Linked DNA regions of Homo sapiens. The protein of the gene in region 1 purifies or fractionates together with the protein of each later gene. This does not show direct contact. Each region holds a gene or a part of one and is shown in the gene's direction. Other genes may lie near its edges. The genes, in order: SEC62, COPG2, GPR89A, CLCN2, ATP12A, EVI5 and EVI5L.

Region 1 (4,267 bases):
ATCTCTACAAAAAAATTAGATGAGTATGATGGCATGCGCCTCTGAAGTGAGAGGATGGCTTGAGCCCAGGAGTTAGAGGCTGCAGTTAACTATGATCCCACCACTGTACTCCAGCCTGGGTGACAGAGCAAGAACCTGTCTCTTAGAAGAAAAAAAAAACTAAATTGCCAGTGTAGAGGAAAAGTCCTTTATCGTCTCTTTCTTTACTGTTTTTAATGATTTGACATTCATTACAAGTTTTAAAAAGTAGATGTGCTAATCTCTTCAGATATAATATGTTTAGCTGTTTCTTGTGACAGCAGTGGATTGTTGACAGAGCTTCTTCCTCAGTGTATTAGAGTAAAACTTGATGAGAATTTTTATTACTTGCAGGGAGTGGTGAACATTTTGGTTTATCTACATATGCTTGTGATTAATAAGAGTGATAGTTACATACAGATATTTTAAATTTTTGAATATTTCCCCATTAATTTAACTTGCTTTAGTTGGTCTTTCTGAATGCCATTATTTCCCAACATTACTTTTAAAAGATACTTAATATAGTTCACAAGTTGAGGTTTTGGGGAACTACTAATCATGATCATGTTAGATTTAGTTTTCTGTTGAGTTTGGTTTTCTTTTTTGTTGCCAGAGTGTTGAAATTTTACTTTATAAAATATTATTTAGATAGACATAAATCCCCATGTATGCTAAATTTAAAATAATGAATTTCTTCTTTAGCTTCAAAAGCAGTGGACTGTCTTTTGGATTCAAAGTGGGCAAAGGCCAAGAAAGGAGAGGAAGCTTTATTTACAACCAGGGAGTCTGTGGTTGACTACTGCAACAGGTACTGTTTATTTCTTAGTGAAGAATAACATAATAATTTTAAATTTTCTTCATAGTCCTGAAGCTCCTTACATCATTAAATGTAGTGATACTACAACATAACTCAAATACTGTTTTCACATGTAACCTGATTTCTTTGGTACCTCTGGAAATGTGTTTGGTATTAGACTATTATACTTTTAACTGTATATAATTTTTATTTATGTTCTATTTTATATATTTGTGAGCCCTACTGAAGGGTCAGCAACAAAAGTCATATACCAGTGCCTACAGTAGAAAAGAAAGTTTTTTCTTTTGTAGAGCAAATTGGTTGAGGAGTCTTTTTTTCAAAACTTTTGCAGGAATTCCTATTAGCTGTGTTACCGCTACTTTTTTAGTGCCTGCACCCTGAGCCATAAGCCTCATACCCTTTCCTATTTGGTTCAGTGTTTGCTAATGTAGTATTTCTTCTAAAATCAAGGAAGCTGCAACATCTACCTTATCTTTTTCTGAGAATTTCAAGATGAAATACAGCTAATTCAGTAATATACATATATTTTTCATAATAGATACTTTTTCTGTTTTGAAAAAACTTTTGATGTTAAGTGGTTTACCTAAAAGACAAAATCACCTTCCTTTTGGAAGGAAGTATGCTGGTTTTTCTTTCCATTTCTTTTCTTTTTTTTCTTGGTTTACTTAATACTAAGCATTTTCTTAATATATGTTAACTAAATTTTGTTTTCATAACACTAAAGCTTATCTTTTGGGATTTTAGATTATTTTATGTGTACTAATATTTTATTTAATGGCACCTAAAGTATCAGCCACATAAGAACCCTCTTAAAAACCACTATTTCACAACCTGGTTTCTTAAGCTGTCAAGTTAAAGAATTATTGAATATTTCTTAAAATTCTTAGTTGCCAAAGACTAGAGGTTACTAACAGACCTTTTAGAAACAGTAGGTTTCGGCCAGGCACAGTGGCTCATGCCCGTAATCCCAGCACTTTGGGAGGCCGAGGCAGGTGGATCACAAGGTCAGGAGATCGAGACCATTCTGGCTAACAAGGTGAAACCCCATCTCTACTAAAAATACAAAAAATTAGCCAGGTGTGGTGGCGGGCACCTATAGTCCCAGCTACTCGGGAGGCTGAGGCAGGAGAATGGCGTGAACCCGGGAGGCGGAGCTTGCAGTGAGCCGAGGTTGCGCCACTGCACTCCAGCCTGGGCGACAGAGTGAGACATTGTTGAGACAAGGATGAGCTAACACTCATGCAGTTGATATTTGCTTGTCTTTTGTAGCAACTTGTCTAGTTAGAATTAGCTCCAGCAAGCATATATCCAGGGCAACTTGAATCTGCTCGTGGGGAAAAAATAAAAAGGTGAATAGAATTAGCTCCACGGTACAAACTTCCAGGCTGGGCACAGTGGTTCACGCCTGTAATCCTGACACTTTGGGAGACCAAGGCAGGGAGATCACATGAGGCCAGGAGTTCAAGACCAGCCTGGCCAACATAGCGAAACCCCATCTCTACTAAAAATACAAAAATTAGCCAGGCGTGGTGGCATGCACCTGTAGTCCCAGCAACTTGGGTGACTGAGACATGAAAATAGCTTCAGCCCGGGAGGTGGAGGTTGCAGTGAGCCGAGATCGCACCACTGCACTCCAACCTGGGTGACAGAGCAAGACTCTGTCTTAAAAACAAACCAAAAAGTACAAACTTCCTTACCTGCCACAAAACTGATGTATTTTTTACATGTTGTGTAAAAATTAAGAGATGCTACAAATGCAGAAACTGGGGCACAGAGAACTTAAGTACTTTATCTAAGGCTACACAGCTAGCAAGTGGCAGATCTAGGGTTCTACATCTAGCAGCCTGTCTCCACAGTCTGTGTTCTTAACTACCGCTCTATACTGTCTCCTCCAACAAAATGACGATGCATTTAATGGAGCTATTAGATCTGTAAGCCCAAATCTCTGAGTAGAGCAGCCAGTATGAATCCACATTTTTTGGCTTTTTAGGAGCCTTGGTACCTTGTTATTTGAAAAGCTCAAAAGACCTGAGTACAGAGAGTGTCCAAAGACACTCGATTTTCATTGTATACGCTCTTCCCACTGATGTCAGATTGTTTGAGTCCTTTCTGCACTAAAATAAATGAGAATAGCATAACTTTAAGGTCTCCAGAGCCACTTCTAATATAACCGTAGAGTCTTATTGGCCAGTTCTCATGAGTTGCTGCCCAATAGCAGACAAAATCACAAAGGGTCTCTTGACCAGTTTCTTTTTTTCTTTTTTTGGCATCCTCCAATACTGTCAGTTTTTCTGAGGCAGCTAAGTGGCATGAGGGAGTCTGAGGAAAAACAAAATAGGAAAATGTAGGATGATAAAACAATCTTTTCTAATGTGATCTATACCTTTTTATGGCCTATATCATGAATGAACTCATACATACTAGGTTAAGTCTCCACAAGACTTTGTATCACTGACCCCCAATCCAGTTATGTCGTCCTCAGTCTTGTGCACATGCCACACTCATTTTTTCTTCTAGTCTTTTTCCTATCATAACTTGCCACTTTCCCTAAACGGTTCTGTTTCCTCTGTCCCACCTGCCTCTCAAAATCACAAACAAATCCCTCAAGTCCTTCCTCTACCGAATGTACTCTTCCCCAGGCCCTCCAGCCTTCATCAGCCTTTGTATCTAAAGTTCTACTGAGTTTATCAAGTTAGTACCTCCCAGTTTGGCCCTTAACTATTTTAGAATTGCTACATATGTGTGAGTTTTTTTAAAATCTCCTGCCAGCTAAATCTGAAAACAATTGTAAGACTGTTTTATACTTTATTGTAACTCCATAGCAATTACCACAGTGTGAGCACTTCATAAAAACTCACCTTTGCCACATTGGTGGAAGTCCCCAACATGTCTGGCATTTAATAAATGTTTGTTAAATCTGAAAAAAAAATGGAAGTGAAGGAAAAAAATACAGAAGTAATTTTTTAAATGTTTTAGAAGCTGTTTTAAAACCACTTACTCAACAAATAGTCTAGGCTCCAGGAATACAATAATAACTATGACTTGGTCCCTACATCAAAACATATTCTGATCTGTTAGGGAAGATTTATAACTAATCACAATGCAGTGTGTTGAATAAGGAAGAGAGAGATGGTGAAACTATGAAGAATGACATCACACAGAAAATGTTTTAAGTAAATTTTGAAACATAAATAGGTGATTACCCAACAAACAAGAGAAGAAAGGAAATTCATTCCAAGCAAAGGGCATAGAACACACCGAGATAGGAAAGTATGAGTAGTTGTGTAAAAATGTCAGAGAGTTTTATGTTAGTAATGTGTTCTATGTCATGGGTTTAAAGCCAAACAAACGGAGGCTCTGATACTATACAAATGTTAAATAATGTCAGTCTCATCTTTCAACCTAATTGTGAAATTATTTTCAACACAATTT
Region 2 (4,267 bases), on another chromosome or scaffold:
ATTAGCTGCCTGCATGAATTCATTATCCATTTTTCTCTTTAACTCAGAATAATGTAGCTCTCCCTTAAAAATCCTCAAGTAATTTTATTGAAAATTACTTATAAACTAGTTGTAAAATCAAGTTAGATACTTTAATGTTCTTACCTTTGTTTACACTCAGTCCACTTGATGTGCTATTGACTGAACACTTCGTGAAACCCCATAGCCTTGGTTTCCACAATAGCCTACATGTTTCCATCACTCCTCACTCTTATTTACAGAGCTCCTCTTTCCAGCACCATTCCTTAAAATATTAGTTCTCTGTAAGATTTTGACTTCTCAACATCTACATTCCTCTTGGTGATCATTTTCAGAGCTCTGCTAATAGGCTGTGACATTCCAGTCATGTCTCTTTCCTGAACTTGTTTGTCCAAATAACTTAAAGCACTTCAAACTCAACCTGAAATTCAAACTAACCTCACATTCATCATCCACTCAGTTATCAAGATAGAATCTTGTTCTGCTGCCTTACAGCCCCTATCTGTTCTTTAGCAAAGCGCTTTCAATTGTGTCTCCTTAATATTTCTTCATTCTCTTCTATTTTCTTGGTGCTGATTGAGGCTGTCATCCGTTTCAGATCCCTAGCTATCTGACTGCTTCTAGACTCACATATATCCTGCCTATTCTTTACACTCTGCTAAAAAAAAAAGAAAAGGCGGGGGGGACTTTCAAATGTACAAATTTATCTCATATTTAATATCCTTTAATAATAATGTTGAGATTAAACCATACCCTAATTTTGTTTTATTGCCAGTCTCTCCCTTGTCTCTTCTTGCTCTCCAACATGGGTCCTTTGCTCAGCCTTGCCCAACTGTCCAGTAATACACCACACTTTCTTCTCTGGGCAGGGGCCATTCGAACGTGTTATTTTCTCTGCCTCTAATACTCTTATCCTGCCTTTTTCCTCTGGCTAACAGTACTTGGTCTTCAGATTTTAGCTCAAGTAATATGTATTAACTCTTTGTCTTAGTTTTCCACCACCAATTCGGATTTAGTTCCTTTCTGTGTATTCACATAGCATCCTGGATATATTTCTTCCATGGACTTACCTATGATGTCTTGTAATTGTCTCTCTACATACCTATCTTTCCCACTAGAGTGTAGCTCCTTGAGATCAGGGACATGTCTTTTATCTGTCCCAGTACCTAGCACAATTCCTGACAAAAGTTTGGTGAACAATGAATCTTTGTTGAATGAGAGGAATTTTAATAATAGAATTTCTTTTTATGCTTGGGGCTGGTTGTTTGAGATTAGAGCTTAATGACATCAGTGTGATATATAAGGGGTTGTGGTGGGGTGGAGATATAGCTCCTACAGAAAATCTATATGAATCTTTTTCCTCAATTTTTGGAAGATTTTCCTATTCAGAGCTCTCTTGGGCTTGCAGAATTCTATTTATGCTTAACAGTATCAAAGAAATAAGATCAAGAAACACTCAATAAAACAAGGGAGTTTATCTCCACTGAACATGGGGACACTTTTCTAATTTTTTTTCAAATGGTTATTGGTTAACTCTGAGAAACCAATATTTATGTACCATAATTGTATGCTTCATTATAGCTGCTGTGAGTGCTTTGGCTAAATTTGGGGCTCAGAATGAGAGTCTTCTCCCAAGCATCCTTGTACTCTTACAGAGGTAAGTTAAATAATGTCTTTTCTAAAAAAAAATAAGAATTCTATATGGTTAAACAGTGAAATCCTCATTCTACCATAGGGCGGATGCACTCTAAGCCCTAAGAGTAGAGTTATTGGAGCAAGTCAGGGGCAAATGGCAATTCCTTTCTCTTTTTAGTAATTATGTATACCTCCCAATCAATTTGATGTGCTATTGACTGATCACTTCATGAAAGCCCCTAGCCTTGGTTTACACAATAGCCTACATGTTTCCATCACTCCTCACTCTTATTTATAGAGCTTCTCTTCCCAGCCCCATTCCCTAAAATATTAGTTCTCCATAGGGTTTTATTTGCTAGGTACATGTCACATTTGATTTTGGCTTTCTCTCACATGATTTTGAGAAAGTGACTTAAATACATTTGCCTCAATTTGTACAACAGGGGCTTACTTAAAAAAACTGTTAGGTAATTCACTATGCAGAGTTAAAAATAATAGTTTTTCATTGTCTTCATGACTCTATTTGATGAGGAAAAGACTTGCTTTAGCAAACTGTGATTGCATCTTATAATTGAAGCAGATAAATTACAAGCCAAAGGTTGGCTAGTTTACGTAAAACAAATTGTCATTTGAGCAAAAACAGTGGCTGGATTTTGAATTTATCTTTTCAGTATCCTTGGAGAGTATAATACTCCCATTTCCTAATTACAGAGAAGTCTAAGTCTTCAACAGGGTCATGTAGTTACAGATGGAAGAAAAGACTCCAGACTGCTATTTCATGTTCTTGTGCTCCTCGTTATTTTAATGCCTACTTATGTAGTGCTTGTGATTCACAGTAGCAGTATTTCTTTAGTAATTCAGAGCAGTACCCAAGATTTGTGAAGACTTTAGGAGCCACTGTTGGCTATTGTTGAGCACTTTTTTAAAGGTAGTATCAGATGACGACCTGAGCTGTGTCCTTTAGATTTGGTAGTAGAGCTATTGGAAGTCTTTGGGGTACTGTGACATGACTATTCTGTTTCCCCTGGACAGGTGTATGATGGATACTGATGACGAGGTACGAGACAGAGCTACCTTCTATCTGAATGTGCTGCAGCAGAGGCAGATGGCACTAAATGCCACATATATCTTTAATGGTCAGTGAAAGCCAAGGATGTACACTTTTGTTCCTCAAATGGTGTCTTGGAAGCATATTTTATGATTTGCATATGAGCTAACTTCACTAGGCAAATGCTTGGTTTTTGTCTTTGAGTGCACTTCCATTTCTAGAGAAACCTGTGTTTATAGGATATTTTCTAATTTGGTAATGATAATTCCTATGCAGCAATCTATAAGAATATAGATTGGGCCCTTACATTTTTTAGGAACGTTGCTCACTTATTCCTGGTTCTCCTTGAACTCCCTCTTGGATGGGTTTACATTTTTCCCGTTTTCTTATGCTATCATTGTTCCCATATAGCTAAGTTGCTTTCTTTTCTGGGAGGTACATACATTTTGTTGAAAATGTGTATGCTATGCTCCCATGTTTCCTTGAATGAAATAAGTCAGTTTATAAGTTTATAAGGTAATTTCAAGAATATCCTTTATTTTTATATTTAGGTTATAAAGCTTTTGGTTATATTTTTCTCTTCCTTCAGAAAGCTTAGATAAATATTACAAACCTGGGCCTATTTGGATTCGAGGATTGGCAAGAGGTTATAATGCTGAGATTTCTCTATGTTTCACAGGTTTGACGGTCTCTGTACCAGGGATGGAAAAAGCCTTACACCAGTACACGTTGGAGCCTTCAGAAAAACCGTTTGACATGAAATCAATTCCTCTTGCTATGGCTCCTGTCTTTGAACAGAAAGCAGGTTCACTCTATTCATTTTTCTGTGTATAAGTAGTTTTGCAAAACTAAAAAATATTAGCATATTTTCTCTAATACTCATTTAATTGTCACTCTTTTTTTTTTTTTTTTTTTTTGAGATAGAGTCTCACTCCCGTCGCACAGGCTGGAGCACAGTGGCGCGATCTCTAGTCACTGCAACCTCTACCTCCCGGGTTCAAGCGAGTCTCCTTCCTCAGCCTTCCGAGTAGCTGGGATTACAGGCATGCGCCACCACACCTGGCTAATTTTTCTATTTTTAGTAGAGACTGGATTTCACCATGTTGGCCAGGTTGGTCTTGAACTCCTGACCTCAGGTGATCCACCCACCTCGGCCTCCCACAGTGCTAGGATTACAGGCGGGAGCCACCGTGCTCAGCCGATTGTCACCCCTTCTAAATCTTTTAGATTTAAGACATATTTTTATTAGAGTTTAAAAAAAACTCCTGGTTTTTACATAAAAGCAGTAAGATGAAATGCACTCCAAAATGAAGGGTTTTTTTTAATGCAAAGCATTACAGTATCTGAAGTCAGTTGCCACTGTGCATCTCAGAGCAGTAATAGTGCTGTCGCCTCCTATTTTTATTTTCTGAAGTTGATAATCTCTAAGTTAATTGATTTTGTTATTGGAGGTTCGTCTTAAAAGAATTTATGGGCGACAATCATAAAAAATATTCCCAAAGAATATCTAATCTTAAAACTTAAAAACAAAAACAAAAGAAGTCATAAATGTTTAGTGGTTAGAAC
Region 3 (4,267 bases), on another chromosome or scaffold:
TGTTAGGGGTGGTGGAAACCTTTGACTGTGTGATGAATACCTTGAAACCACTCTAGAAAAATGCACATAACCCCAAAATGTGCATACAATATCAGGTTTTAACCCCAAATTAAAACTTCCTTCGGCTCGGGCATTATCTTCTCCAGAAAATCTGTCCTAACCCCTTACAGATTGGTTTGGTCTCCCTCTTTCATATTGTTTTACAATATCATGTATGTATTTCTATCATTGCACATCCATATTATGTTATAATTATTTATGTACTGTCTTCACTATATTGTGAGCTCCTAGAGGGTAGTAACCATCCTATTCATCTTTGTATCCTCAGCACTTAGCATAGCACGTAGGAGTTATTACAGAAAATTTAAGATTGAATGCTGAAGAATAAACCATCTTTTATGTAGACCACTTAGCCATTCAGCAAGCACTTATGGAGAGCCTGCTACGTACCAGGCTTTGTGCTGGATGCCAAGGATACAAAGATTACAAGACAAACATGGTTTTTGTCCTCATAGAGCTTATAATCTAATGTCAAAAAATATTTAAATCACACATTACAAAACTGTATGGTAAGCACTTTGATGAGGGAAGTACAATGTAAAACAGGATTATATAAAAAGCAATTTATCTGCATTTGGGAGGGCAGAGAGGGCCTTCCAGGGGGAGTAAATAGCATAACTGGGAGAGGGCTAGAGAGAAGTTCCTTTCAGAGGACATCTACACAGGTCTCGATGTGAAAGAATATGGATCTAAAGAACCAAAGAAGTTCCAGGGGGCTGAACACATGAGTTTGCTAGGCAGCAGGGGCATGATAAGAAGCTAAAGTAGTCTGTGCTAAACTACTGAGTTTACACTTGCTCAGTAAAGTAGTCCCTAGAAAGACATAAAATCATTTTATTCATAAAGGTCCTAGCCAGTTTAAGAAGAAAAGAGTAGTTGTGTCAGTGTGTATGTATAGAAAGTTCTGTTTACTACAGACCAGCTTTATCAGCTGTCATGTGGCTACGGTCTCTGCCAGTTTGAAACAAAACTGACGAAAGAGGGATCCTGCAATCTCTCGGCTTTACATTGAGATGAAAACCACTTTTATGTAGATTAGGCAGGATGGTGGAGAAGCTAAGAAAACTCTCTGAAGGAAACAGATATAAAAAATATTAGGCTTTCTACTACTCCTCTAATTTTGGTCTCAACTCCTCTCCCCTGAAGTTTTTATTTTTTAAATTAATTTATTTTTATTTATTTTTTGAGACAGGGTCTCACTCTGTTGCCCAGGCTGGAGCGCAGTGGTGCAATCATGGCTCACTGCAGCCTCAACTTCCTAGGCTCAGGTGATCTTCCCACCTCAGCCTCCCAGGTGGCTGGGACTACAGGCACACCCCACCACCCCCAGCTAATTTTTATGTGTGTGTGTTTTTTGTAGAGACGGGTTTTCACCATGTTGGCCAGGCTGGTATTATTTTTAAATACTTGCAATCAGGGATCATCCATAAGAAGCAAGTCTCACTCTGACACCTTTTCTTTTTTTTCGAGACCTAGTCTCACTCTATCACCCAGGCTGGAATGCAGTGGCACGATATTGGCTCTCTGCAACCTCTGCCTCCCAGATTCAAGCGATTCTCATGCCTCAGCCTTTGGAGTAGCTGGGAATACAGGTGCCCACACCCAGCTAATTTTTGTATTTTCAGTAGAGACGGAGCTTTGCCATGTTGGCCAGACTGGTCTTGAACTCCTGGCTTCAGGTGATCTGCCCACCTTGTCCTCCCAAAGTGCTGGGATTACAAGTGTGAGGCACCGTGCCTGGCCACTGACTCCTTTTCTATTTGCAAACTTCTCTGGCTCATATAATGATTATCATAAGATTATGGCAAAATATGTACTTCCATTTTTGTCTTAAAGCATACTCTGTAACATGGATAACTTCAAAACTCCAAGGGCATTTAAAAATTTATTTCCAATGTCATGAGCTTTAATAATAGGTCTTATAAGAGTGGATCTTATCTTTAATCCCTGAAATAAGTTAACCGTCTAGTTAGCAGACCTTTTATCATAAAAGAGTTTCTATAAAACATTTCTCAAAAGAAAATATGTATTGACATTCTATTTTCTTTCTCCTCCAGATACTATTTTTTGGATTTGGGTGGCTTTTCTTCATGCGCCAATTGTTTAAAGACTATGAGGTGAGAAGAAATCATTTTGTCATACTTACACTATATGATTTAGATTGACAAGAAAAATGTCTCCATTAAAGAAACATTATGTTCATTTCCAAGATAGGAAGCTTTTACCAAATAAGTACTATATAACTATTAGATTGCAGAATATAAGTAGACTTAATTGATTTAAAAGGGGGGAAAAAAGGCAAATCAAATATAGCCCAGAAGTTAGGAGCAAGGATTATGTCTTAGTCATATCAGGATATGTACCAATAGCAAATAGTTATTCTGTAGGAGAGAATTTAATTCATAATGTCTCACAAATGTTCCCTTTCATTTGTCTATCTGGCCCTGAATTGCAAACCTTATATTATAAGTTAATACCAAAATCCCAAGGCTATCAGGGGAACCAGTCCCCAATATTTCAACATAGGTTCTTTCTGTTTTCCTTAAGTGTCGGCCGGTCTGAGAAATAAAGAGAAAGAGTACAAAGAGAGAAATTTTACAGCTGGGCCTCCAGGAGTGCCATCACATATTGGTAGGACCGTGATGGTGACTCCGAGCCACAAAACCAGCAAGTTTTTATTAGGGATTTCAAAAGGGGAGGGAGTGTACGAATAGGGAGTGGGTCACAGAGATCACATGCTGCAAAGGGCAGTAAAATCACAAAGCAGAGGCAAAAATTAGAATTACTGATGAGGGTCTGTGTCCCACTGTGCACACATTGTCTTTATAAACATTTTAACAGGAAATAGGGTTCAAGAGCAGACAACCAGTCTGACTAGAATTTACCAGGCTGGAATTTCCCAATCCTAGTAAGTCTGAGGGCACTGTAGGAGACCAGGGTGTATTTTAGTCCTATCTCAACCGCATAAGACAGACACTCCCAGAGCGGCCATTCATAGACCTCTCTCCCAGAATGCATTCCTTCCCCAGGGTTATTCCTTGCTGGAAAAAGAATTCAGCAGTATTTCTCCTACTCGCTTTCTGCAAGAAGAAGAGTATGACTCTATTCTGCCCAACCCCGCAAGCAGTCAGACCTTATGGTTATCTTTCCGTGTTCCCTGAAAATTGCTGTTATTCTGTTCTTTTTCAGGGTGCACTAATTTCATATTGTTCAAACACACATGTTTTTCAAACAATTTGTACAGTTAACGCAATCATCACAGGGTACTGAGGTGACATACATCCTCAGTTTACAAAGATGACGGGATTAAGAGATTAAAGTAAGACAGTCATAAGAAATTTAAAAAGTATTAATTTGGGGAACTAATAAATGTCCATGAAATCTTCACAATTTATGTTCAGAGATTGCAGTAAAGACAGGTGTAAGAAATTATAAAAGTATTAATTTTGGGAACTAATAAATGTCCATGAAACAATTTATGTTCTTCTGCTGCGGCTTCAGCCAGTCCCTCCATTCGGGGTCCCTGACTTCCCGCAACACAAGGCTGGTGTTGTTTTTATCTTAAGCTTTGGATTCAGAAGATCACCACCCTAGACTCGACATTTCCTAGTTAGTTCTCCTAATTAGTAATAAGATCAGTGGTTATAGTCTACATTTGGGTCATTTCTAGGATATTCTCCATTAAACTTTCCCAGGGAGTTTATTGTCTGAAAGAGCCTGGGATTCTGGAGATTTTCTTCTGCCCAATACTTTAAGACCTCCCGAGGAAGGTTCCAGAACTGATCCAGGATCTGCAGAGTGTTGAAGAACCCCTTTAAACATTAACCATTATGTACGAATCTGTCAGTTTTTTGTCAGTATGCATCAGGAATTCTAAGTGCTACCTATGACCCTGTCACTTCATCTTCTTGTCCTCAAAATTCTTCATCCACAGGAGGATGCTGGTAATAGTGACTCAAGATTCAGAAGTGCCACCTATATTGATCTTTTTCTTTAGCTCCAGGCAAGTTGCTGTTGTGGCCCTACTTCCAATGACTTGAGAATTTCCTCAAAATAAGTTTTCTGACTTGTAACCAGAAGGAGGTTATCAGTTCAGTTTTTAAACAAGGAAATAACTTCTAGTCTCTGTTTGGCTTTTAACAGATACGTCAGTATGTTGTACAGGTGATCTTCTCCGTGACGTTTGCATTTTCTTGCACCATGTTTG
Region 4 (4,267 bases), about 14 Mb from region 1:
TCAGCTGGGTCATGGACTATGCCATTGCTGCCTGTCTGCAAGGTGAGGGTGACAGCTGGCAGGGGGAGGACTGGGAATAAACCTCCTGCGTCCATGCCACACTCGTCTAGACATGGAGGAAGGCGTCTTGGCTTCTTGGCCACTGACCACTTTCCCCAGCCAGTCTGACTGCCCAGATTCAGGCATCATCTCGGCCACTCCCACAGGGCACAGCTTCTTGCATCCCCTCTCCAAGTGATCCTCTTGCCTAGATTGCGCTTTGTCCCAGTGAATACCCTCAGGGACCCTTTCCTTCACCCATGCCCTGACTCTGTGTGGTACTCCCTGGGACAGCCTGTCGTATCAGCGTGGTCCACTGGCCAGGCAGGCAGTGGGTGTGTGCACTGGGGGTCCAGCAGGTCCTCTTCCCACAGCCCAGCAGTGGATGTCCCGGGGCTTGAACACCAGCATCTTGCTCCAGTACCTGGCCTGGGTCACCTACCCTGTTGTCCTCATCACTTTCTCAGCCGGATTCACACAGATCCTGGCCCCTCAGGCTGTCGGTATGTTAGAAGAGAAGGGGAGGGCAGAGGCGGGACCCCTGAAATGGGTGCATCGAATGCCTCTCCTGAGACTGTTCCCTCTCCAGGCTCTGGCATCCCTGAGATGAAGACCATCTTGCGGGGAGTGGTGCTGAAAGAATACCTCACACTCAAGACCTTTATAGCTAAGGTCATTGGGCTGACCTGCGCCCTAGGCAGCGGGATGCCGCTTGGCAAAGAGGTAACTGCAGGCTGGGGAATGAAGGAGTCCCTCCTGGTGGAAGAGGAGGCCAGGCCAAGGTCAGGGCGGGCCCCCTCCCGACTCACCGCCTGCCCCACCCCGCAGGGCCCTTTTGTGCATATCGCAAGCATGTGTGCTGCCCTTCTCAGCAAGTTCCTCTCCCTCTTTGGGGGTATCTATGAGGTAAGGGGAACCCTGGGGCAAGTAGGGGGCAGAGGCTGCTGAGCCCACAGCTGACCCCCTCTTGCCACCACTCTCGCCAGAATGAATCCCGGAACACAGAGATGCTGGCTGCCGCCTGTGCCGTGGGGGTGGGCTGCTGCTTCGCGGCACCTATTGGAGGTAGGCAGGGCTCCTAGGTCAGTCCAGCCCCACAACCCTGCCCTTGGCCTCTCCTCCTTGGCCCCTCTTATCTGGGTCTGAGGCCTTAGGCCAGGCCCAGGCCTCAAGTGCTGGTCTCCCTCCCCCTCACAGGCGTCCTCTTCAGCATCGAGGTCACCTCCACCTTCTTTGCAGTGCGGAACTACTGGCGGGGCTTCTTCGCTGCCACCTTCAGTGCCTTCATCTTCCGGGTCTTGGCAGTCTGGAACCGGGATGAAGGTGGGGGCACCCAGGGGATGAGGGCAGCCCGAGATGGTGCCAGGTAGGGGGCCCACGAGGCTAGGCCTGCCTCCCTCTGCTGTTCTTCCCTTTAGAGACTATTACAGCCCTCTTCAAAACCCGATTCCGGCTCGACTTCCCCTTTGACCTGCAGGAGCTGCCAGCCTTTGCTGTCATTGGGTGAGGAGCTGAGGGGGCTGGGGGTATCAGAGAGGAGGGGGGTTTCTAGAAGGCTCCTTTTCACTCAGGTGCCTCTTCCCTTTCCAGTATTGCTAGTGGCTTCGGTGGAGCCCTCTTTGTCTACCTGAACCGGAAGATTGTCCAGGTGATGCGGAAGCAGAAAACCATCAATCGCTTCCTCATGAGGAAGTGAGTGGCTCTCGGCTCCTCTCCAGGCTGCTTTGAGTTGTATAAGGGCCACAGTAGGTCAGGGGACAGTGATGGGGAGAGAATGGCCCAGTCAAAACAGGCACTTCACTGAGAAATCAGCCAGCAGTGTTTTCCAGGCTGACTGAGCATTTTTATATTCATATGAATTACCTGAAAATTGGCATTTTTAAGTTTATAGTCAGCGGTAGAGGACATTTGGGAATCAAAGACTAAGGCCTCCTCAGGTCCTCTGGGCTGGCCCATATAGGAATGCTCCCTGGAGAGTGTTTGAGCCTCAGGTTCCCCCCATGACCCATGGGGATAGATGAGATCTCTTTTTTTTTTTTTTTTTTGAGACGGAGTTTCACTCTTGTTGTCCAGGCTGGAGTGCAATGGTGCGATCTCGGCTCACCGCAACCTCCGCCTCCTGGGTTCAAGCGATTCTCCTGCCTCAGCCTCCCAAGTAGCTGGGATTACAGGCATGCACCACCACGCCCGGCTAATTTTGTATTTTTTAGTAGAGACAGTTTCGCCACGTTGGTCAGGCTGGTCTCGAACTCCCGACCTCAGGTCTGCCCACCTTGGCCTCCCAAAGTGCTGGGATTACAGGCGTGAGCCACTGTGCCCGGCCGAGATTTTTTTTTTTTTAATCTCCAGAACACAGCTCTCTCAGTGTGACCCTGAGGATTGGGAGTGGGGAGGGCGAGACATGACTTCCCTTGGGACTGACATCCTTCAGAGAGAGGGCAGCCAGCTGAACCTGCTCCCTACGCACCTCTGGTCAACTTTACAAGTGACCCCAGCTTCCCCCAACATTGACCTTCACTCTAAGTCACTGCAGAGAGACAAAGAGAGGCAGAAACTTCTCCACCCCATCACACAATATGCCCTGATGGGCTTCTGAGGGTGGAGGGTGGAATAACAACTCGGAGGGCCCCAAGGGAGGGCTTGGAGGATGGACTTTCTGCTGCTGCTACCCACCTACAGAGTCAGGGGCTGACAGAAAGGTCTTTGGGTCAGACCCCTGCTCTTAGAATAACCCCAGTCCACCATCAGCCTTGGGGCTATCGTATCATAAACAGCAAAGGAGACCTTCTGTCAGGACTGAGTGTTTTCATGAAAGAGCCAAGGCTCTGCTCTGACCTCAGCCCTGAGATATGCGAGGCCACCCAGCCCTTGGCCACCCACGACTGATGTGAAACCTACGACTCTAGACGCCTGCTCTTCCCGGCTCTGGTGACCCTGCTCATCTCCACGCTGACCTTCCCCCCTGGCTTTGGACAGTTCATGGCTGGACAGGTAACCACAGGCAGAACAGGAGTTTTGTGCTTTCCCTTGGAAGGCATTCCTCCAAAGCCAACAGCCCCAGTGTGACTGTGGGACCCCTTGTTCCCCGTGGGATCCCATGGCCTCTTCCCTTCATCCTGTCGGTTTCCCAGCCTGAGGCACCCTGTTCACTCTAGCTCTCACAGAAAGAGACGCTGGTCACCCTGTTTGACAATCGGACGTGGGTCCGCCAGGGCCTGGTGGAGGAGCTAGAACCACCCAGCACCTCACAGGCCTGGAACCCACCACGTGCCAACGTCTTCCTCACCCTGGTCATCTTCATTCTCATGAAGGTGGGCTCCTCACGTGTACACTGCTAACCTTTACATAGCTTGCCCTTCTAAGCACCTGCCACGCAGTGCTCACTCCTCGAAGCCTCTCCACAGTGCCATGGGAAAGGCACTATTATCACCCCCGTTTGAAAGATGGGGGAGTCGAAACACAAGTAGCTGGCCCAAAGTCACACAGCTAGAGGGCAGAGCGATGATCTGAACCCAAGCCATCTGCTTCCAGAGTCCTTCCCCTTGCCATCACCTGGGAGGCCTGGGGGTCCCAGGGTAGCTAGGAGGGTTACGGGGTGGCTGGGAGGGTTACGCCCACCTGATCAGCGAGGTAGACTTCTCCTGGGTGGCGCTGTGGGCTGCCTGGGGCCAGGTGGAGCCTCTTCGCCTTTGAACCACCCCCTGCCTGCAGTTCTGGATGTCTGCACTGGCCACCACCATCCCAGTTCCCTGTGGGGCCTTCATGCCTGTCTTTGTCATTGGTGAGTTCTCAGCTGCCTGCTCACCCAGCCTGCACCTTCCTCAGCCTCTGGCCACCCCCCCAGCCAACCCTCTGCCCAAGAGCGGGTTTTTGGTCCAGCCCTAGCCCGAACCCTGACCCCACAGGGCTGTGCCCTACACTGAATGACCCGTTGGCCCCTCCCTCACCCTCTGACCCTCTCTCTTCCTAGTGCCCCCTGCCCTCCCCCTCCACTGCCTCTTTCTCTTCCCACCCCCCTCCCTGAAGGAGCAGCATTTGGGCGTCTGGTGGGTGAAAGCATGGCTGCCTGGTTCCCAGATGGAATTCATACGGACAGCAGCACCTACCGGATTGTGCCTGGGGGCTACGCTGTGGTCGGTGAGTGCCTCAGGTCCCATCGGCCTTGGGAGACCCCCCCACCCACGCCCCAGCCACAGGGTCCGAGACTCTGGTGCCCCCTGCTGGCAGA
Region 5 (4,267 bases), on another chromosome or scaffold:
AGAACTCTCCATAAGCTCAAGAAAAAGTAGTTCTTAGAGTCTTCAGGCCTCGGGTGAAGCAGTCTTCTGTTTCATTCTTGCTGTTCTGACAGCCTCATGCTCCAGCAGCAATGCTGTGTCCACAGGGCCAGGTGCAGGCTGCATAACAGCATGGACTCAACAGTGAGAGTGATCAGGAAGTTCCAAGGCCTCTGTCCTGGGGTTCGGTGCGGCACAGACTTGGGGGAGGGCCGGTGTCCTTCCAGGGTCTGAGGCATCTGTCATGGTTTTTTTCTGCAGCAAGCTCTCGTCATCCGAGATTCCGAGAAGAAGACCATCCCTTCAGAGCAGCTGGTGGTGGGGGACATTGTGGAGGTCAAAGGAGGAGACCAGATCCCTGCAGACATCAGGGTGCTGTCTTCTCAGGGGTGTCGGGTAAGCGGCAAGGGGTATCCACCCCAAGGACCATGTTCCAAACCTGCTGGCTCTGGGGTCTTTCCCAGCATCAGTATAAGAGGCAGGGAATGAGGTACCCAGCTGTGAACCACCTTCAACATTTCTTCTAGGTGGATAACTCATCTCTCACGGGGGAGTCTGAGCCCCAGCCCCGCTCCTCTGAGTTTACCCATGAAAACCCCCTGGAAACAAAGAACATCTGCTTCTATTCCACAACGTGTCTGGAAGGTAAAAGGCCTCTGGCTCTCAGCCCACATGTCCACCTGTGTCCTTTCTCCCTCCTGGGCTCTCAGGTCTGTCCTTTGCCACACCCCGTTACAAAGCTCATCCCAGAGGAAGCATGGAACTGAAGGGCCTAGAGGACGATGCTTGGCCTTGGGAATGTGGTGTGCCTATCGATTGTGCCAGCCCCCAGAGAGGGCTGCAAGCTGGCTGCACACCCCTCCTGGCTGAGGACCCCTGGAATAAAGCATCTACTTCCCCTGTAGGCACTGTCACCGGCATGGTTATCAACACGGGTGACCGCACCATCATTGGCCATATTGCCTCATTGGCCTCAGGAGTTGGAAATGAGAAGACGCCCATTGCCATTGAGATCGAGCACTTTGTTCACATTGTGGCAGGAGTGGCTGTCTCCATCGGCATCCTTTTCTTCATCATCGCTGTGTCCCTGAAGTATCAAGTCCTGGACTCCATCATCTTCCTCATTGGCATCATTGTGGCCAATGTGCCCGAGGGCCTCCTGGCCACTGTCACTGTGAGTCCATGCTGTTAGACAGCCTGCACCTGGCCCTGTGGACACAGCACTGGTGCTGGGGAGGCGCCCACACAAACTGCAATCTCCCCCAAGTCCAGAGCACCACGCCCTCCCCGCCAGCGACAACCCTGGAACATTCTGCATAGACTGTTCCTTACAGAGACAAAAAATTTGTCATATTTTCAATATTTGACTGCGTTTTCCTTGAAAACGTTATGCTTTCAATCTGCAATTCACACAGCTTACTCTGCCCCATAAGATCTAGATAAGACAGACTCCACCATTCACAGGTTTTCTAGAAGCTTGATGCCTTCCGCACATTTCTTTGGCAGTTTCTACAACTTAGGCATTTAGGCACATTGCCACACTCCACTTACCTCTCTTACGAAAAAAAAAAATTCCTCCCATTTTTCCTGCCGAGGACTCCAGCCCTTTCCTGGCCAACCCCAGACCCAGCTGTTTGTATGGGCCCATGTCATTCAGTCCCTAGAGAAGAGCCCCCTCCTCCTCAGTCTCTCCTGTGGGGGTCTCAAGGGGTAGGAGAGGAGGGGGTTTATGTTTCCAGTTTTGTGACTACATGATCATTGGCCTGCTATTGTCCTGACCAAAGAAAAGAGAAGAAGTTTTTGAAGTCCAGGTCTCCTCTGACTCCAGGAGATAGTAATTTGGGGAAATTGGAGCCAAAAGAACCCTTTGAGATCTAGGGGTTTAAAAGAATCTTTAAAATATGGAGCTTTTAAAATGAAACAACATAAAGGCTGCTGAATTCCCCAAAGCAACAAGTGTGTCCTTTGGGACAACTCTTTGGCATGCACTGGTCAGTCTCTCTTACACACTCCTGCTTAGGGATCACAGGAGGCGTCGTGATTGTACGTGAACACGAGCCACAGCAGCGTGTCCGTGTTTGCTGCCCGTGGGTCCCTTGTTTTCTTCAAGTCATGAAGGAACAAGAAAAGCATCTCATATTTAATCTTTAAAAAAGGATTGTGGCATAGAGGGCTCTTGGCGGCGTATAAGCCACCAGGTCAGCTTAGCTGCGCTGACAACCACACCTCTCCCCTAAAACTAGTCCAGCTCTCTCCTAAAATTCAATCACAGCTCACATTGGCTATTTCTGTATTATTGGACCTGAGTTCAAATGAGGATTTTTCCCAAAGCGTCCTTCCCTCTCCTGCTAGGTGACCCTGTCGCTGACAGCAAAACGGATGGCCAAGAAGAACTGCCTGGTGAAGAACCTGGAGGCTGTGGAGACCCTCGGCTCCACCTCCATCATCTGCTCGGACAAGACTGGGACACTGACCCAGAACAGGATGACAGTGGCCCATCTGTGGTTCGACAATCAGATCTTTGTGGCTGACACCAGTGAGGACCATTCAAGTAAGTCTTATGGAGAGCTCGGTCTGGCCAAAGCTGTGGACTCCATCCTGGGGCTGAGCTGAGCACACAGCAGGGTCTGCAGCCAGAGGATTGCTGGACAGTGACTCATGGACGGCCAGCCCAACCCACAGCAGCCACTGTTCTTTCTCTGTCTTCCAGACCAAGTCTTTGACCAAAGCTCTAGGACTTGGGCCTCCTTATCCAAGATAATAACATTGTGTAACCGAGCAGAGTTCAAGCCAGGACAGGAAAATGTCCCCATCATGAAGGTAATGCTTCTGCAGCACTTGGTCTTAAATCACAGCCAGTTTGTAGTCACTTGCTGAGGTCTGATTGGGTGCTTGATTTCATCTCTCCAGTTGCTTAAAGTTTGTTCAGTGCTTGCAAGAGCAAGTCAGACTCACAAGACATCCAGAAATTTTTCTTTATGCACACTAGCTTTGAGAATACAAAGATGCTTAAAAGGTTTCAGAATATTGCTTTAGCGTCTTCAGAAAATTCTGGAAATGAATGCACTTCTAAGTTACTTTCCTGACTTTTCTGCCAGCTAAGTGGATATAATCAAAGTTCCTTTTAATATACACACCATTCATGGAAATTTAAAGTGTGATTGAATAAAAATAAAAGGACTCCTGTTAACTAGAATATGGCTGCAGACAAAGCTCTAAGGGGTCCTGGAATATCGGAACATACAATAAACTCTCCCCCTCCCTCCCTCTCCTCCTTCCCTTCCTCCCTTTTCCTCTCCATCTCAATGAGTCACTGAATCCCTGTTCTCCTGGCTTTTCTATTTGCCATCTGTTTCCTTCCCTGACTCTTTTTCTTTCTTATTTTTTTGTTTGTTTGTTTGCTTTTCTCTCCGTCAGACAGCTCATGAATGCTCTTTTTGGCCAATTGCTTCTTTGTCGATATCTTCCAAATCTTTATGTCCAGCTCTAATTTCTTACCTCAACTCCAACCCGAATCTCTGGCTGGCTGTGTGCTTCCGCTAGGAAGTTGCACAAATCATGCTTGTTAACTTCCACCCGTACCCAGCCTGGCTGCACATCAGTGCCTTGCCGCAATTTTCTAATTGTCTATGATATAACCATTCTATTTGTCATTGGAACAGAATATTTGGAAGTCATCTTTGACTTTATCCTTTCCTTATATCCAGTAAGCCACCAAGTTCTATCATTCTTGCTTCAAAATATACATAACTTTAGTATTTGTCAGCAGTACCTTGCATCTAAATAGCCGATTACCGGCTGATTGGAATTAAACCTCTTTGATTCCGGTTTATCCCTCCTGGGGTCTTTCTCGAATGCCACTAATTTCCCTTAATGGTGCTTTTATAGTCACTTAACTTTGCTCAAAATCTCTCCGTACTTCCCTGTTTTCTGCTTCTCAAGTCTAGACCTCAGGCTACCTTTCAGGGCCCTCCAGGTCTTGCCACACCCTCCACATCCGCTTGTACCTTGAACACTCACGGACGAGCCTGCCCCTCATGCCCCTGCACCCGCATCCTGGTTTCTGGAAGGCTTTCTTCTCTGTGTATCGGTAACCCACCTATCTATCAAGATCTAGTTCGTAGCTGCTTTTTTCCACGAAATCTTCAGTCCTCGCAGAGGTCCAGCTTCTCCAAACATCCCTAATGCCAGTAGGTGGCACTGTTGTTTACACGCTTACCACGGTCTTGCGGCCCTCCCTGATCACGTG
Region 6 (3,812 bases), on another chromosome or scaffold:
CCTACTTTATTTTATTTCTGTAGCATCCATCACCATCTGACATATATATTAGTTGATTTATTCCATGTCTTGTCTGTCTCCCTCCATTAGAAATTCAGGTTCCTTGAGAATAGAGATTGTGTTTATTTTGTTCACTGGTGTATACCCAGAGAGAGAAAAGTATCTGGCTGTAAATCAGTATTTTGGGTTGAATTAATGAATGAGGCAAGTTGAGGCAGTTGGTTTCAGAGGTTGTAAGATTTGTTTAACTTCTCATTCTTGGTGATAGAATGGGAGACTAGAACTTTCTGATTCTTACCTCATTGCTCTTAACATTGCAGCACACAGCCACTCAAACAATGTTTGTGGTTGGCTGTGTACTTAGTTTAAATATCATTGGTTTATTTGTGTATCAGAGAACATTAACCTATGTTGTTTTTTTTTCTTCCAATGTAGATGCCAGAAGAAGAAGCTTTCTGTGTATTTGTTAAATTAATGCAAGATTATAGACTTCGTGAACTTTTTAAACCAAGTATGGCAGAATTGGGCCTTTGTATGTACCAGTTTGAATGTATGATACAGGTAAAAGTGCAGTGTTGATAAAAAGGCATATTGCCTTTATATTTTTTATATCTTGTTCTGAGTGCCAACTAAGCAAATTTAATGTTAAAAGCATTAAAGCACTTGAAGAAGTAAGTGTTTTAATTACATGATTGTTTTTTGGTTGGTTAATGTACAATTTGACCCTTCAAATTAGGTAGATCACAGTCTAGGACTTGACTCCAGTTTTCATATTCAATCCTTAAGCATTTCTGCCAAATGTACTATACACCCCTTACCTAAGCACATGAATTTCCTTATTATATCCTATTATTGTTACGTAGTCTAAGCTCTCTTACAGGAGCTTTATGATATTACACTGACATCAGTCCATTTACTTGGAGACTGTCTCTTTGAGTCCTCTCCTCTGCCTTTTTACTTTTATTTTATTTTTATTTTTTGCTAGCCCGTAATTTTTTTTCCTGTAATGTTTTCTTATGTTGCTAGTTTAAGACTCAAGTTATCTAGTGACTGTATGAAGGTGGAGAGAATAGGAGCAGAATCAAAATCAAGGGAAAAATACCTTTGAAGTATTTTACCTTTCTGGATTTAATTTTTATATTTTATATATTTAAGTTTGCTATAATGTAAATATTTTCATTTATTTCAATTTCAATTTCAATTAAATGAGCAGAATTTAAGAAAATAGGTGAATGAATCAGCTGGCATGAGAGCCATTTTTATTAGTTTCCTCTCTCCTGGCAGCCTTATAAACTCCAGTTTTTCCCATCTGTGGTGGGAGCAAGGGGATATGTAAAATGTTCTTATATTTTATTTTTTATTTATTCATTTATTTATTTTTGAGATGGAGTCTCGCTCTGTGGCCCAGGCTGGAGTGCAGTGGCGTGGTGTCGGCTCACTGCAAGCTCCGCCTCCTGGGTTCATGCCATTCTCCTGCCTCAGTCTCCCAAGTAGCTGGGACTACAGGTGCCTGCCACCACGCCCAGCTAATTTTTTGTATTTTTTTAGTAGAGATGGGGTTTCACCATGTTAGCCAGGATGGTCTCGATCTCCTGACCTCATGAACCGCCCGCCTTGGCCTTCCAAAGTGCTGGGATCACAGGCGTGAGCCACCGCTGTGCCTGGCTAATTTTTTAATTGACATACAATAGTTGTACATTATGGGGTACATATTTTTTGTTTTTATATATTTTAAAGAAAAAGCCAGAATAGGTTTTGAGATGATTTTTTTTTTTTTCCTGAGACAGAGTCTATCTAGCTCTGTTGTCCAGGCTGAAGTACAATGACACAATCACAGTTCACTGCCGCCTTGACCTCCTGGGTTCAAGCCATCCTCCTCCCTCAGCCTCCTGGATAGCTGAAACTACAGGTGTATACCACTGCACCTGAATAGTTTTTTATCTATTTTGATTTTTTATTTTTTAATTTTTGTAGAGACAGGGTTTCACTCTGTTGTCCAGGTTGGTGTTGAACTCCTGAGCTCAAGTGATCTTCCTATCTCAGCCTCCCAAAGTGCTGGGATTACAGGCATGAGCCACTGTGCCTGGACTTGAGATGATTCTTAATTAATTCTTTTCTGAAATAGTAAGCTTGTTTTTAGCAGCCTTAAACTCTCTTAATGTTATATTTTCAATTAATGTGTCATTTATGGCTGGACGCAGTGGCCCATGTTTGTAATCCCAGCACTTTAGGAGGCTGAGGTGGACAGGTCACTTGAGCCCAGGAGTTTGAGACCAGCCTGGGCAACATGGCAAAACCTTGCCTCTACTAAAAATAAAAAAAATTGGCTGGGCATGGTGGTGTGCACCTGTAGTACCAGCTGCCTGGGAGGCTGAGATGGGAGGATTGCTTGAGCTTGGGAGGCAGAGGTTGCAGTGAGCCAAGATCACACCACTGTACCCTAGCCTGGGTGACAGAGTGAGACCCCATCTCAAAAAAAAAAAAAAGTCTCATTTATGTTTTGAATTACTAGAGTTGCTGAAACATCTGTATTTTGAATATTTTTCCTATTCTTTAGGAAGGTAAGAATGGGTGATCAGTGGTAGATAGTGCCTGAAAGTATTTTAACATACCATTTATTTTCTTTTTAAACGTCTTTTTAAAATATTATAGTTGATAGAAGAGTATAGAAAATGTCAGTCACTCTTGTATCCACCAACAGGATTAAACAAATATAAAACTTTTATTCAGTTTCTTTTTATTAATAAATTAAATGTTATACTCAAAATTCCAACTTCACATTCTTTCCCCCTTCTTTCTTTCCTAGATACTAGCCACTGTCCCAGATGTTTCAATGTCTATGTCTTACCTTTTCCATATGATGCTTGATCTAATCTGTGTTTGGTATAGGCTAATCTAGTATAAATATAATCTAATTTAAAATACTCAGTTTTACTGTGTTATAACTAATTATTTTCTTCTCTTTAGGAGCATCTTCCAGAGCTCTTTGTACATTTTCAATCTCAGAGTTTTCATACCTCAATGTATGCATCATCCTGGTTTCTGACTATCTTTCTTACAACTTTTCCACTACCAATTGCAACAAGGATATTTGATATCTTTATGTCTGAGGTAAGCTAATGGGCAGACAAAGAGCAGGAGCTGAGCAAAGGGGTCACTGAGTTAGTGAGAGCAGGGCAATGAGGAGAGCAATGAAGGAAAGCCATGTGTCCCATGCAAAACTGCTTACATGGATAATCTCATTTAAACCTTATAATAACCCTATCAGGTAGATACTGTTTTTATTGCATTTGTTAGATGATAGATGAGGAAGTTGAGACTTAGAGAAAGGTTAAGTAGCTTGTCTATGGACACACAATACATAAGTGGTGTTGTAACCAGGATTCAAACATAGGCAGTTTGGAGCCTACACTGTTAATCATACCTCTTTATCACCTCCTAACTCATACAGTGAAAGTTAGTGAGAGGTAAAATTTGTCTTACAGTTAATATTGTTGAAATGCATCTGTCATCCAAAGAGTAAGAAGTAATAAGCATGTTTCTTCTATGAACACATTGCAGGTTGTTGTCCTTTTGTCAGTAGCACATAGAGGTAATCCTTTGTTTTCTAGTCTGTGAACTCAATGTTGTTATTAATTACATCTTGGGAAAATCAATTTGTATTACCTATCTAAATTAGTTCAGATCACAGTTGGTCAGCTGTGATTCATGTACCAATCAGATGGACAGATTTTTGTGCGAAATCCATTCTTCCACACCTGTTTTTTATAAAGTTTTCCTAGAACACAACCCTGCCCATTTATTTATATGTC
Region 7 (4,267 bases), on another chromosome or scaffold:
GGAAGAGGTTTGTTCTGTCCACTTGCTGAAGGAAGGCGTGGAGGAAAAGACTCCTGAAGGTCACGTGGTATCTCTCACGCACAGGAAACTAAACTCTACAGCCTCCCCAGGGTGGAATTTTGTGCAGAGACAGTGGGGTATGAAGGCTTCCCAGGATGACTGTGAACTCTATAGGAAACCACGAGGAGGACTTGTCAGTGATACGAACGCAGTTTTACCCGAGACTGGGCTCGTGGAGCTGCATCTTTGTTTGAGCTTTGAGGGGGCAGACGGATGAGGAGGAATGTATATTTCAATTTCCTCTTGCAGAATAGAGATGCCAGTTGTTACAGGGAAGCCCTGGGCCTGGAGTCAGATGTTGGGGTGTGAAGGAATGTAAGATGTGTACAATGTGGTCCCTGCTCTGCGTCTAAAGTCCTCTCACTGGCATGCGGCGGCCCCCGCCATGTGCTCAGCACCATGCCAAGCACCATTGACATATTATCTCATTTAATCCTCCCCAAAACTCGGAGGAACCAGGATTGCAGCACGCGCCCTTGCCATCCTGGCCTGAGGCCTGCTGCGGGGAGCATGAGACAGAATTATGTACAGCAGGCTGCAATGGGAGCCCGGAAAAAAAGCCTGATGCATCCCTGGGGTGTTGGGGAAGGCACAGCAGGGATGACGTATGGACCAGGTCACAGGCAGGCGTGGCAGGGAAGGGTGTTCCAGGCAGCAGAAGTGCTTGGACACACGCCCAAGAGGCAGGAGCAAGCGTGGTGCGCTCAGGGAGGCGTGTCCCTGTACTTCCTTTGATAGGCGTCTTACTACAAGCCCTTGTGTCCCCAGTGCCATCTGTACACTTGGCACACATGGTGGGGGGCTCCCCAGCAAAGGGGATCCCTAGTTGGGAGAACTTGGAAAGGCAGCAAAGCCGCCCTTCCCAGGGAAGACTGCAGCACACACATGCTAGCAGCCCGGGCAATAGAAGGAAGGAGGTGAGTTTAGGAGAACTAACTCAGCTCATCAGGGTCAGGGAGAACTAACTCAATTCATCAGGGTTAGGGAAGAGACTTACCCTTTTGAGGGAGATTTGGAAGGCCTCATTGGCATGACTCACCTGCACTTTCATTCATTTCTCAGCATGCCACGATATGCTTGTGAGAGTGTTTGATTGAAATCTGAGGCCCGGCACGGTGGCTCACGCCTGTAATCCCGGCACTTTGGGAGGCCGAGGCGGGTGGATCACCTGAGGTCAGGAGTTCGAGACCAGCCTGGCCAACATGGTGAAACCCCGTCTCTATTAAAAATACAAAAAAATTAGCAGGGTATGGTGGTGCACACCTGTAGCCCCAGCTCACTTGAACCTGGGAGGCAGAGCTTGCAGTGAGCCAAGAACGCGCCACTGCATGCCAGCCTGGGCAACAGAGCGAGACTCCATCTCAAAGAAATAAATACAAATTTTAAAAATTTTTAAAAAAAGAAAAATGAGGGTTTTGCCAGAAGGGAACCTATTATAATAGCCAAAAGTAATCTGGTCAGATGACAAGAAAGAAAATTTTTTTTTAGGTCAGAAAGGATTCTGCAGGTCAGAATGGTTCACTTCTCAGATTTTAGCCAAAGGTGTGTGCTGCTGTTGCTGCTATTGTTATCAATAAAGATTATTCTAGTTTTACTGTGTTTACTCTTTAAACAGGATCACCACAGAAAGGGAGGGCCTGTTGAAGAGGGGAAGTTTATTTATCCCACAAATATGGGATGCCTACTAGACTCTGAAGATCCAATAGTGGGCTAGACAGCCCCAGCCCCTGCCCTAGTAGAACTTTTCATCCAGAAGGGAATAAATATCACAGGTCAGGCTTGTCCTAAGCACATGACAGGTTTAAGCTCATTGATTCCTTCCAACAAAAACTGTGGGGTAGATACTGTCATTAGCCCTGTTTTCAGATAATGAAACTGAGGCAGGCCAGGTGCAGTGGCTCACGCCTATAATCCCAGCACTTTGAGAGGCCGAGTCAGGGAGATAACTTGAGGCCAGGAGTTTGAGACCAACCTGGGCAACATAGTGAGACTCTCTCTCTGCAATAATAATAATAATAATAACAAAATTAGCTGGACATAGTGGCAAGTGTCTGTAGTCCCAGCTACTTGGGAGGCTGAGGCAGGAGAATCACTTGAGCTCAGGAGTTGGAGCCTGCAGTTGGCTATGATTGTACCACTATACTGCAGCCTGGGTGACAAAACAAGACCCTGTCTCTAAAAATAAAATAAAAATAAAAATAAACAAAAAAAATTGAGGCAAAATACATCATACCCAAGGTTACAAAGATAGAAAGTGGTAGAGGAGGCCAGGAGCGGTGGCTCACACCTGTAATCCCAGTACTTTGGGAGGCTGAGGCGGGTGCATCACCTGAGGTCAGGAGTTCGAGACCAGCTTGGTTAACACAGTGAAACCCCGTCTCTACTAAAAATACAAAAATTAGCGAGGTATAATGGCGGGCATCTGTAATCCCAGCTACTCAGGAGGCTGAGGCAGGAGAATTGCTTGAACCCAGGAGGCAAAGGCTGCAGTGAGCCAAGATCGTGCCACTGCACTCCAGCCTGGGTGACAGAGGTAGACTCGGTTTCAAAGAAAAAAGAATAAAAAGAAAAGAAAGAGGTAGAGGAAGGATTTGAACCCAGGCTGCAAGCTCTGAAGTTCTCACCTGGAGCCAAGAGATCTGGGATAACAACCTACATTCCAAGGCCAGGGATATGGAAACTTCCAGAACCATGTGGAGGAGCAGCTAGACTGGGCGCAAGAAGAGATCAGGCAGGGACCTCTGAATTCAAGCCGCTGTTCTTGTTATCCAAGGGGCAGCTCACCTGTCAGTTGTCCGCCCACACCTTGCCAAGGACGAGAGGACCTAAGGTGCTAGGTTGGGCCATTTCCCCAGAGGTCAGAGCCAGCCAAGACAGCAGCAGTCTGTCAGGCTAGACAAATCGGGGTCACATGGCATCTTGGGCTTTAGATTCCGAAATGAGTCTGTGTCCCTGGTAATCATTAGACATGGAGGAATCAGAAATGGGGGGTAGGGCCGGGCGTGGTGGCTCACACCTGTGATCTCGGTACTTTGGGAGGCCGAGGCGGGAGGATCACCTGAGGTTAGGAGTTCAAGACCAACCTGGCCAACATGGCGATACCCTGTCTCTACTAAAAATACAAAAATTAGCCAGATATGGTGGCACGCACCTGTAATCCCAGCTACTCGGGAGGCTGAGGGAGGAGAAGTGCTTGAACCCAGGAGGCGGAGGTTGCAGTGAGCCAAGATCGTGCAACTGCACTCCAGCCTGGGCTACAGAGCAAGACTCTGTCTCAGAAAAGAAAAAAAGAAGGAAATGGGGGGTAGGGGAGTAAGGGAAACAACATGGAAAGGAAACTCGGGGTCTTCATTGCTGTCTCTGAAAATGCCACAGACTGAAAGATGCATCATATGTGCTCGCCCTCTCTCACCGTTGAAAAATAATGACTGTTTTCACTGAGTAACCCCTGCACTTGGGGTTTCACATACGTGTATCATTCCCAAAGTAAAAGAATACAGACAGAGCTGCAGCACAGCGGGTGGATTTAGGGCAAAGGCTATACAGTCAGAAATCCAAGTTCAAATCCTTCTTCCTCCTCAGCCTAGTCAAGGGACTCTCTGTGCCATATGGCACTTGTGTGTTAAAGCCGTCGTTGGCTTTTCTGCTTACACTGTACAGAAATTTCTATTTTTATTTTTTTCATTTTTTTTTTTAGACGGAGTCTCTCACTCTGTCATCCAGGCTGGAGTGCAGTGGCGTAATTTCAGCTCACCGCAACCTCTGCCTCCTGGGTTCAGCCTCAGGAGTAGCTGGGATTATAGCCATGCGCCACTACACCTAGCTAATTTTGTATGTGTGTGTGTATTTTTAATAGAGACAGGGTTTCACCATGTTGGCCAGGCTGGTCTCGAACTCCTGACCTCAAGTGATCTGCCCCCCCTCAGCCTCCCACAGTGCTGGGATTACAGACATGAGCCACCGCACCCAGCCTTTATTATTATTTTTAAAATAGACTTGGGCTGAGGCAGGAGGATCCCCTGTGGCCAGGAGTTCAAGACCAGCCTGGGCAGCAGAGTGAGACCCCTGTCTCAAAAATAAAATAAAATGGCCAGTTGTGGTGGCTCACGCCTGTAATCCCAGCACTTTGGGAGGCTGAGGCGGGCGGATCACCTGAGGTCAGGAGTTCAAAACCAGCCTGGCCAACATGGTGAAACCCCATCTCTAC

The links.
Region 2: the proteins of SEC62 (region 1) and COPG2 purify together in Homo sapiens (affinity purification with mass spectrometry; one large-scale study listed by BioGRID and IntAct). This does not show direct contact.
Region 3: the proteins of SEC62 (region 1) and GPR89A purify together in Homo sapiens (affinity purification with mass spectrometry, with the first as the bait; one large-scale study listed by BioGRID). This does not show direct contact.
Region 4: the proteins of SEC62 (region 1) and CLCN2 purify together in Homo sapiens (affinity purification with mass spectrometry; one large-scale study listed by BioGRID and IntAct). This does not show direct contact.
Region 5: the proteins of SEC62 (region 1) and ATP12A purify together in Homo sapiens (affinity purification with mass spectrometry; one large-scale study listed by BioGRID and IntAct). This does not show direct contact.
Region 6: the proteins of SEC62 (region 1) and EVI5 purify together in Homo sapiens (affinity purification with mass spectrometry; one large-scale study listed by BioGRID and IntAct). This does not show direct contact.
Region 7: the proteins of SEC62 (region 1) and EVI5L purify together in Homo sapiens (affinity purification with mass spectrometry; one large-scale study listed by BioGRID and IntAct). This does not show direct contact.

The regions. Positions count from the first base shown.
Region 1 is NC_000003.12:169,976,226-169,980,492, forward strand, and holds part of SEC62 (translocation protein SEC62), read left to right. Parts: intron 1-720; coding exon 721-826; intron 827-4,267. UniProt on the Homo sapiens protein: Mediates post-translational transport of precursor polypeptides across endoplasmic reticulum (ER). Proposed to act as a targeting receptor for small presecretory proteins containing short and apolar signal peptides.
Region 2 is NC_000007.14:130,549,763-130,554,029, reverse strand, and holds part of COPG2 (coatomer subunit gamma-2), read left to right. Parts: intron 1-1,599; coding exon 1,600-1,675; intron 1,676-2,685; coding exon 2,686-2,789; intron 2,790-3,380; coding exon 3,381-3,506; intron 3,507-4,267. UniProt on the Homo sapiens protein: The coatomer is a cytosolic protein complex that binds to dilysine motifs and reversibly associates with Golgi non-clathrin-coated vesicles, which further mediate biosynthetic protein transport from the ER, via the Golgi up to the trans Golgi network.
Region 3 is NC_000001.11:145,614,117-145,618,383, forward strand, and holds part of GPR89A (Golgi pH regulator A), read left to right. Parts: intron 1-2,117; coding exon 2,118-2,177; intron 2,178-4,203; coding exon 4,204-4,267. UniProt on the Homo sapiens protein: Voltage-gated channel that enables the transfer of anions such as iodide, chloride, bromide and fluoride which may function in counter-ion conductance and participates in Golgi acidification.
Region 4 is NC_000003.12:184,354,457-184,358,723, reverse strand, and holds part of CLCN2 (chloride channel protein 2), read left to right. Parts: coding exon 1-42; intron 43-413; coding exon 414-542; intron 543-628; coding exon 629-762; intron 763-867; coding exon 868-945; intron 946-1,025; coding exon 1,026-1,104; intron 1,105-1,236; coding exon 1,237-1,362; intron 1,363-1,457; coding exon 1,458-1,542; intron 1,543-1,629; coding exon 1,630-1,731; intron 1,732-2,945; coding exon 2,946-3,030; intron 3,031-3,194; coding exon 3,195-3,350; intron 3,351-3,750; coding exon 3,751-3,820; intron 3,821-4,009; coding exon of another isoform or gene 4,010-4,065; coding exon 4,066-4,176; intron 4,177-4,267. UniProt on the Homo sapiens protein: Voltage-gated and osmosensitive chloride channel. Forms a homodimeric channel where each subunit has its own ion conduction pathway.
Region 5 is NC_000013.11:24,690,059-24,694,325, forward strand, and holds part of ATP12A (potassium-transporting ATPase alpha chain 2), read left to right. Parts: intron 1-279; coding exon 280-414; intron 415-545; coding exon 546-663; intron 664-905; coding exon of another isoform or gene 906-923; coding exon 924-1,192; intron 1,193-2,370; coding exon 2,371-2,569; intron 2,570-2,728; coding exon 2,729-2,838; intron 2,839-4,267. UniProt on the Homo sapiens protein: The catalytic subunit of a H(+)/K(+) ATPase and/or Na(+)/K(+) ATPase pump which transports K(+) ions in exchange for Na(+) and/or H(+) ions across the apical membrane of epithelial cells.
Region 6 is NC_000001.11:92,694,609-92,698,420, reverse strand, and holds part of EVI5 (ecotropic viral integration site 5 protein homolog), read left to right. Parts: intron 1-435; coding exon 436-561; intron 562-2,967; coding exon 2,968-3,111; intron 3,112-3,812. UniProt on the Homo sapiens protein: Functions as a regulator of cell cycle progression by stabilizing the FBXO5 protein and promoting cyclin-A accumulation during interphase. May play a role in cytokinesis.
Region 7 is NC_000019.10:7,832,901-7,837,167, forward strand, and holds part of EVI5L (EVI5-like protein), read left to right. Parts: intron 1-4,267. UniProt on the Homo sapiens protein: Functions as a GTPase-activating protein (GAP) with a broad specificity.